Linked DNA regions of Homo sapiens. The protein of the gene in region 1 purifies or fractionates together with the protein of each later gene. This does not show direct contact. Each region holds a gene or a part of one and is shown on either strand. Other genes may lie near its edges.

Evidence for each region.
Region 2: the proteins of DGLUCY (region 1) and BOLA3 purify together in Homo sapiens (affinity purification with mass spectrometry; one large-scale study listed by BioGRID and IntAct). This does not show direct contact.

The regions. Positions count from the first base shown.
Region 1 is NC_000014.9:91,221,871-91,226,242, forward strand, and holds the end of DGLUCY (D-glutamate cyclase, mitochondrial isoform b precursor), read left to right. Parts: intron 1-2,813; coding exon 2,814-2,963; 3' UTR 2,964-3,762; downstream 3,763-4,372. UniProt on the Homo sapiens protein: D-glutamate cyclase that converts D-glutamate to 5-oxo-D-proline.
Region 2 is NC_000002.12:74,141,161-74,144,972, reverse strand, and holds part of BOLA3 (bolA-like protein 3), read left to right. Parts: intron 1-2,612; coding exon 2,613-2,701; intron 2,702-3,812. UniProt on the Homo sapiens protein: Acts as a mitochondrial iron-sulfur (Fe-S) cluster assembly factor that facilitates (Fe-S) cluster insertion into a subset of mitochondrial proteins. Probably acts together with NFU1.

The DNA.
Region 1 (4,372 bases):
CAACTTCCCAGAAGGCACCCCACTTTGAGCGGCATCATCACCTCCCATAAATACCTGCCCACCGTGCTCCCAGTGTGACTTAATAGCAAGCACCCATACACTCAGCCTCTACACACTCAGCATCCACACACTCAGCCACCCTGGGGCCTCTGTCCCCATCCAAGCCCTGTCTACTCTCCCTCACTTGGGTCCTCCATTCCTCCTCTCCTGCCCTGTTGTCTCAGCCTGGACTGGTGCAGTGGCCTTCAGGCGCCCTGCCCTCCAGCTGCTCCCTGGTAATTCTCTGCCACTGTTACCACCTCTGCCTCTTAGAAGATGGCATGGTCATTCCGTGATTCTTGGAAATTTGCAGGGAGTAGCTGTTGGCCCAGCTGGTCCCTGTGTCTCTTGGAGGCTGGGTGCCAGTCAGCTCGAAACCTGTTGGCTGATTGCGTGCACCCTGAGGACCCCACAGCCCTTCCTGGGGCCCAGAAGGATGAGAATGGTGAGGGAAACAGTGTGCTGTGAGGAAATGGCCCCAGGAGTCCCAGAAACATTCCCCCATAAAGAGAGGATATGACCAGTGGAGAAGAGAAGCGAGAGGAAGAAGCCCAAACAAAGGGCGGGAAATGCCATTCTGAGTGGGTAGCTCCTGAGAAGGAGCTGTTGGACAAAGGACACATGTGAAAGTGGAAACAATTTAGGGCCTCCCTCCTACAGAGGAACATCCTTCTTGGCCCCCAGGGCAGAACAGAAATGCAGGCTCTCAGGCCAGCTGTGAAGAGACAGTTTGCAGTTAACATTTGCCAATGCTTTCTCTATTACTTAGAAAAAGTTAGTGAGTGACCCTCCAGGGCTCTCAGCTGGCTCATTTTTATTCTTTCATCACCTCTGATCCTAGTTGCCCCTTGTCGTAGCTCAAGCTGCTATTTTAAAAAACAACTATAGACTAGGTGGCTTGAACAACAGAAATTTAGTTCTCACAGTTCTAGAGATTGGGAAGTCCAACATCAAGGTGCCAGTAGTTTTGATTCACTGGTGGGGACTCTCTTCCTGGCTTACAGATGGCCGCCTTCTTGCTGAGTCCGCATGTGGTGGAGAGAGCGAGAGCTCTGGTTTCTCTTTTTCTTATAAGAGCACTTCACATCCTGACCCTCACTCATGACCTCATCTCAATCTTATTACCTCCCAAAGACCCCACTTTCAAATTCCAACAATTGAGGATTAGGTTCAACATACAAAATTTGAGGGTACATATTGAGTCCATAACACCCTGCCTCCAGAAAATGTTCCCTGAACCATGCCAATAAGCTGGGTTGGGTGCCCCTGCTCTGTGCTGTGACATCCTGTACTATGACTACCTGATTACTCATCTAGACTGTGAACCCCATGGGGGCAGGAACCATGTCACATTCACCACTGTATCCCTGGTTCAGGGCCTGACACATACTTAGCAGGTGTTCAATAAACCTTTGATCAATGGTGGGATGAATGAGCAAATGCCTGAGCAGGGAGAGAGCCTTCTTATAGCCGCCCTAATGTCCTATTCTAGATTCCTTAGGTCCCCTCCTCTCACCTCCTGCCTTTGTTGTGGAGGAGGAAGAAGACAGGGAGAAGGAAGAGGAGGAGGAGGAAGAAGAAGAAGAGGGAAGGATGTGTTTGAGTTGCTTTATGCCTTCACTTAAGGCTCACTGTCCTTAGGGGAACCTGAGCTGTTCACTAGGGACAGACACATTAGTGGCTTGGGCAAGTGGTGCTTTGGGATTTTATTTTTGGAAGGAGGGGGGATGGAGGAGGATCAAACCACTTTTTTTTTTTTTAACCAGCAGGAGAGCAAAGGGAGAAAGCTCTAGGCTAAAGGCCAGAAGACCTAGCCCTGCCAATAAAATCAACCTCATTTTGTGAATGCCTGTTGTGTGCCAAGGACCCTGCTAAGTGCTTTGCTTGTACGTAATCCTCAGAACAACCCTCTAAAGGAGGCATGATGAGTACTTTTATCATCACCCTCCCCATTTTACAGATAAGCACACTAAGGCACAGAACAGTTAAAATTCCTGCCAGGAAAGACTCAAGTCAGACCTTTCTGATCCCCAAACCACTCTGCCTGCTAGGCCCCGGGCTGCGGCTTCAGGATGGGGGCTTGTATTCTCTGTGACTCTGCTACACCTAGATGCTCCCACTCCCACAGTCACCCTGGTCATTTCTAGAAGGCAACAGCAGCAGGATTTGACACATGCCCCACATTAGGCTAAGAGGTCTCAGGAGAAATGGGGGCCTTTGGCACAAAGACTATTGGCAGATAATCCAGGGCTGGGAGGAACTTATTGGCAGGAAATAGCCTGCACTGCACCTGCAGGAGGAGTGAATCTTCAGTGTTGGTTAAGGAAATGCAGGCTGGCCGGGCACAGTGATGTGCACCTATAGTCCCAGCTAGTCAGGAGACTGAGACAGAAGAATCACTTGAGGCCAGGAGTTCAATACCAGTCTGGGCAACATAGCAAGACCCCATCTCTAAAAACGGACAATCAAACTAAGAAACTATGTTTCCATTAAAGCATATTATTTAGTTACATAACAGTAACTACCAAAAGAAGCAGCCCAAACTATTCCCGTGATTGTTTCTGGGGAGTAGATTTGGGGGCCAATGAGCTGTGATGGAGGACACTTACTTTTCATGACTTTTCCAATGGTATTAGTACTTTAAACCAAAATTTTACTTTTTTAAAAAGCAAGTATGTCAAGGCAAAGGATCCTTCTCACTTATAAATGTGTATAAAAGAAATTTCTTTTTCCTCCCCCTCCACTCCTTCTATTTCTGCCCTATTTTTTTCCAGGAAGAAAAAATGCTGGGCATCTTGGTGCAGCACAAAGTCCGGAGTGGCGTCTCGGGCATCGTGGGCATGGAGGTGGATGGGCTGCCCTTCCACAACACCCACGCCGAGATGATCCAGAAGCTGGTGGACGTCACCACGGCACAGGTGTAACCGTCCATGTTCCGTGTGAGCAGAGTCCCTACCAACGGGCAGGTCTGCATCCGGGGAGAATGCAGCTGCTTCTGGCGACAATCCTGCTAGTAAACACTGGTCTTCGGTGAGCAACGAACACTCGCCTGGCCTGGGAAACTGCATGCCCACTTTCTGGGAGGGGTTAGTGCAGGTGCTGTGGACAAAGGACAACATTTCTCTGGGGCTTTTTAACTTTTATTCCTAAGACTCTAAAGGCGTTGATTTCAACCCTCCTTCACTCTGGCTTCTTCAGGCAACCCACGTGGTCTCCTGTGAGAATCTTCTCGACAGTTACTTATGGGGACACTTGTGAACAATTAACTGCCAGGCAGAGCATGAGAACAAACATTCCCAGGCCATGTAGGATAGGATACTCCAGACTCCAGTCATCCTCCCCCATCCATGGTTTCTGTTACTCATGGTTTCAGTTACTCATAGCCAACTGCAGACCGAAAATACTAAATGAAAAATTTCAGAAATAAACAACTCTTAAGTTTTAAATTGTGTACTCTTCGGAATATCGTGATGAAATCTCACACCATCCTGCTCCATCCTACCTAGGACGTGAATCCTCCCTTTGTCCAGGGTACCCGTGCTGTCTACACCACCCGCCTGCCAGTCACCCAGCAGGTGATCAGATCGACTGTCATGGTATTGCAGTGCTTATATTCAAGAACCTCTTATGTGACTCAGTAATGTCCTCAAAGTGCAAGAGCAGAGATGCTGGCAATTTGGATATGCCAAAAAGAGGCCATAAAGGGCTTCCTTTAAGTGAAAAGGTGAAAGTCTTTTTTTTTGTTTGTTTGTTTTTGCAGTTGCAAGATTTAATAGAGTGAAAACTGAGCTCCCATACAAAGGGAGGGGACCCAAAGAGGGTAGCCATTGCTGGCTCGAATGCCTGGGTTTATATCCCGATCATTGTCCCTCCTGCTGTGCTCTCAGGCGATAGATGATTGGCTATTTCTTTACCTCCTGTTTTTGCCTAATTAGCATTTTAGTGAGCTCTCTGATTGGTCGGGTGTGAGCTAAGTTGCAAGCCCTGTGTTTAAAGGTGGATGTGGTCACCTTCCCAGCTAGGCTTAGGGATTCTTAGTTGGCCTAGGAAATCCAGCTAGTCCTGTCTCTCAGTACCCCCTCTCAACAGGAAAACCCAAGTGCTGTTGGGGAGGTTGGCTGACAACTGCTCTAACTGCTTCCTGCTGAATTGGGGCGTAGTAGGGGTTGTGCAGTTGAGATTTCCTCGGGAGGGGTGCCTTCGATGTCATCAACATCGGAGCATGGGCTAGCAGGCCGGTCCAGGGGTCCATGGTAGATCTTAGTCATGGACTGCATCTGGGGCTCCATTTGAAGAACTATTTGTAGTTTTACAGCTTTGATTCTGGAAGAGA
Region 2 (3,812 bases), on another chromosome or scaffold:
GAGGACTCAAGGTTGCCAGCCTGGCTCAGCTCAGACAAGGTCCCTCTCAGTCACCCTAGAGCTGAGGTCCACAGTCTGTCATTTGACTTTGAATAGGTTTTGCTCTAATTTTCCCCCATTCTTCTGACACCCTAGGATATCAGAGCTGGAGTGGACCCCAGAAAGATTTTCTTCAGCTGCTTTACTTTCCCTAAGAGGAAATGAGCCCAGAGAGGCCAAAGGAATTGCCTAGCTCCTCATAGGGAAGAGACAGTGGAACTGGAACCAGAACCGGGACTCAGGGGAGACTCTGTCCTAAGCCCAGTTACCAGCCCCAGCCAAGCGCTGTCCTTCTCAGGTGGCCACTGGCACCTAGAAGTTCAGGCTGGCAGTGTGTTAGGAGCAGGCTGGAGAAGCAACTTCTGCATCCACAGGATGGGGAAGATAGGCCCTTTATCCACACACACACACACACGTACACACAGAACGGCCCGTGGCGTGGGCCGCTGGATAGGCATCAGTCTGAATCTCTCCATACCCAGAGGCAGCCTTTGCCACTCAGCATTGCCATGAGGGCTCACTGACTTTACTGAGAACATAACATTTCCAAGGATTGAGGAGAAAGTTTAGAAAGTAGATTTTATTCTGGAAACCACAGGAAATAAATCAATCTAAAGATCTGCTGGGGTTTTGGAGCAGTGGCTCATGCCTGTAATCCCAGCACTTTGAGAGGCTGAGGCAGGTGGATCACGAGGTCAGGAGTTCAAGACCAGCCTGGCCAACATGGTGAAACCCCCCCGTCTCTACTAAAAATACAAAAATTAACTGGGCGTGGTGGCACACGCCTGTAGTCCCAGCTACTCAAGAGTCTGAGGCAGGAGACTTGCTTGAACCCGGGAGGCGGAGGCTGCAGTGAGCCAAGATCATGCCACTGCACTCCAGCCTGGGTGACAGAGCGAGACTGTGTCTCAAAAAAAAAAAAAAAAAATCTGCTGGGGCCAGGCGCGGTGGCTCATGTCTGTAATCCCAGCACTTTGGGAGGCTGAGGCAGGTGGATCACCTGAGGTCAGGAGTTCGAGACCAGCCTGGCCAACATGGTGAAACCCCATCTCAACCAGAAATACAAAAAAAAAAAAAAAATTAGCCAGGCATGGTAGCAGGCACCTGTAATCCCAGCTACTCAGGAGGCTGAGGCAGGAGAATCGCTTGAACCTGGGAGGCAGAGGTTGCAGTGAGCTGAGATTGCACCACTGCACTCCAGCCTGGGCGACAAGAGCGAAACTCTGTCTCAAAAAGAAAAAAAAAATCTGCTGGAATGGTACATCAGGTGAGGGCTCTGCAGGAGTCTTGGGGCAATGCTGAGGCCTTGATGTTACCAGGTCCTGAACTTGCCCCAGGCCCAGGGCAGAGTTAGAGCTTGACTCAGCTGTGGCTCTGCGCAGTCCTGGACAGAGTGCAGAAGGGGAGTTGAGGCTGAGAACCTGGGTTTAACCAAAACTTGGACTCCTAGAGCACATTATAAGAAAAACAGAACAGGCCAGGCGCGGTGGCTCACGCCTGTAATCCCAGCACTTTGGGAGGCCGAGGCGGGTGGATCACGAGGTCAGGAGATCGAGACCATCCTGGCTAACACGGTGAAACCCCGTCTCTACTAAAAATACAAAAAAAAAATTAGCTGGGCATGATGGTGTGTGCCTATAGTCCCAGCTACTCAGGAGGCTGAGGCAGGAGAATGGTGTGAACCTGGGAGGCGGAGCTTGCAGTGAGCCCAGATCGTGCCACTGCACTCCAGCCTGGGCGACAGAGCGAGACTCCATCTCAAAAAAAAAAAGAAGCAGAGCAAAGCCTGTTGAGTACGTTGCACCTCTCACACAATGGCCTGGCTCTGTAAATCATGCAGGGGACATATTCTTGCCCATGTTATTTCATGCTAGAGCTGTGTGTTTATCATCAGTCATCAGCACCAGCTCTCCAGCCAGGTGGAGGAAAGCTCAGGCAGGGGGTGGATGGCCCACCAAGCTCTGCCTCGAGGGCTTCACCAAAAAGTTCTCCCCCCAAAAGCCAGGATGAAATCCTGGATGCTGTGCTGTGGACCCAGCAGTGCCAGAGACAGCCCCGAGCAGCTCCATGCATAGCATGTTTGCTGTGTCCCTGGCTCTCATGCTCCCCTGGTTCTTTCCTTTCTTTGGACAGTATTACACAGTTTTCAAACCAAATTGTAGTGTATTTTTGCACTTCAAAAACACTGATTGTTGGTCCTTTGGAAGCTGGAACGCTGAAATTCCGTCCTTCTCATCCTCTTCCGTGGCGTTTATTGGCCTAGTGAAAGGAAACACTCTACACTCCCTAGGTTGTCCATGCTTTGTGCCTTATCTTTCCTGCCCACAAGTGGTAACCCTGGGTGGTGCAGCTGCCTCGCAAAAGGAAGAGCACATTTTGGATTGTGGCAGCCTGTCAGGAGGAGCATGTGGTCAGATTGGAAGCCATGATCTTTTCCTAATGGTCTTAGCAACTTTCCTTTGTGCTGAATGATAATATTCAGACCTTTGGATTGTACAGTACTTCAAGGATATATGGGACCATGGCTGCCATGACTTAATAATTGAAATGCTTTTGAATCATGTTTATTTTAGGAGGTTGTGGGGCGATGTATGAAATTAAAATTGAATCAGAAGAATTTAAGGAGAAGAGAACTGTCCAGCAGCACCAGATGGTTAATCAGGTCAGTAGAGGCAACAGTGCCCCTTGCCACTGGCCTTCAGCCTCCAAAGGGGCCTGCCAAGCAGGGATGGTGGTTTTTGCCGTCAGTTGCAGGAGAGAATAATGCAGTACTGCAATCACGAAACAGGACTCAAGACCTGAGAAAAATCGAATCTGGGAGTATCTGCATTGTGGCAAATAGGAATTTTATTCAAAATTGAAGACAGGCCTCCCAATAGTGATTTTGTATGTCCTCGTATAATGCTACCTATGTTTACTGTTATTGTCACATATTGATGAGTATATCTAAACACAGACACTGCTAAAAGATACATGTTTTTGTAGATCTGAAGAGGGGTTTTTTGGCCTCTCTTTGGGACTGCTTTACAGATGAGTCAGTTGATGCATGGCATGAGTGAGAATGGCTGCAGCTGCCCCAGACCCAATGACAGAACATTTGGGTTCTGGAACATCACGTTCAACCAGCCTAAGGCTCAGTTTAAATATTATCCATATTTATTTTAATTTGGAATTTATACCAACTTTGACCCTTGTACCTGTACCTATGAATTTGCCCCCTCACTGGGTGTGTTTGGCATCGTTCTGGAAGGTCTTGCCATTGTGAACTAGTGTTATTTTTGTAAAGCACAGCACTGGTAATGAGCGTCTCTTCGGTGGCCTCTCATGCATTGAGTTCAGGTGTCCTAGACTGCTGTTCACGCATTTCCCCCCACCCTTCTCTGCGTGCACCCTCCCAGCCGGCCTCTGCCCGCTGGTCTCTCTCTTTCTCTATCTGGGCCTTTGCCCAGATTGGACCTTCTGCCTGGGTTGCCCTTCCTCCCGTCCTCCACTCAGCTCAAATGCTGCCTCCCCTCCCTCCCCAGCAGGGAATGAATGCCGTTCCCCCACCCTCCCCGGCCCCCTTTTTTGGCTGTCGGTGTTTTCCGTCTTGTGTCCTGAAAACGGACATCTCTGCTGTCTGACCCTGCAACCTGTCAGCCCTTTGTGGACCAGTGCCCTTTGGGATCCATCTTTGTGTTTCTCATGGAACGTAGCCCTTTGCAGTGGATGTGACCCCTACAGCCCTAAGGCATGCTGGTGGTCTGCTGGGTGCTCCATCACTGAGCCCTCCC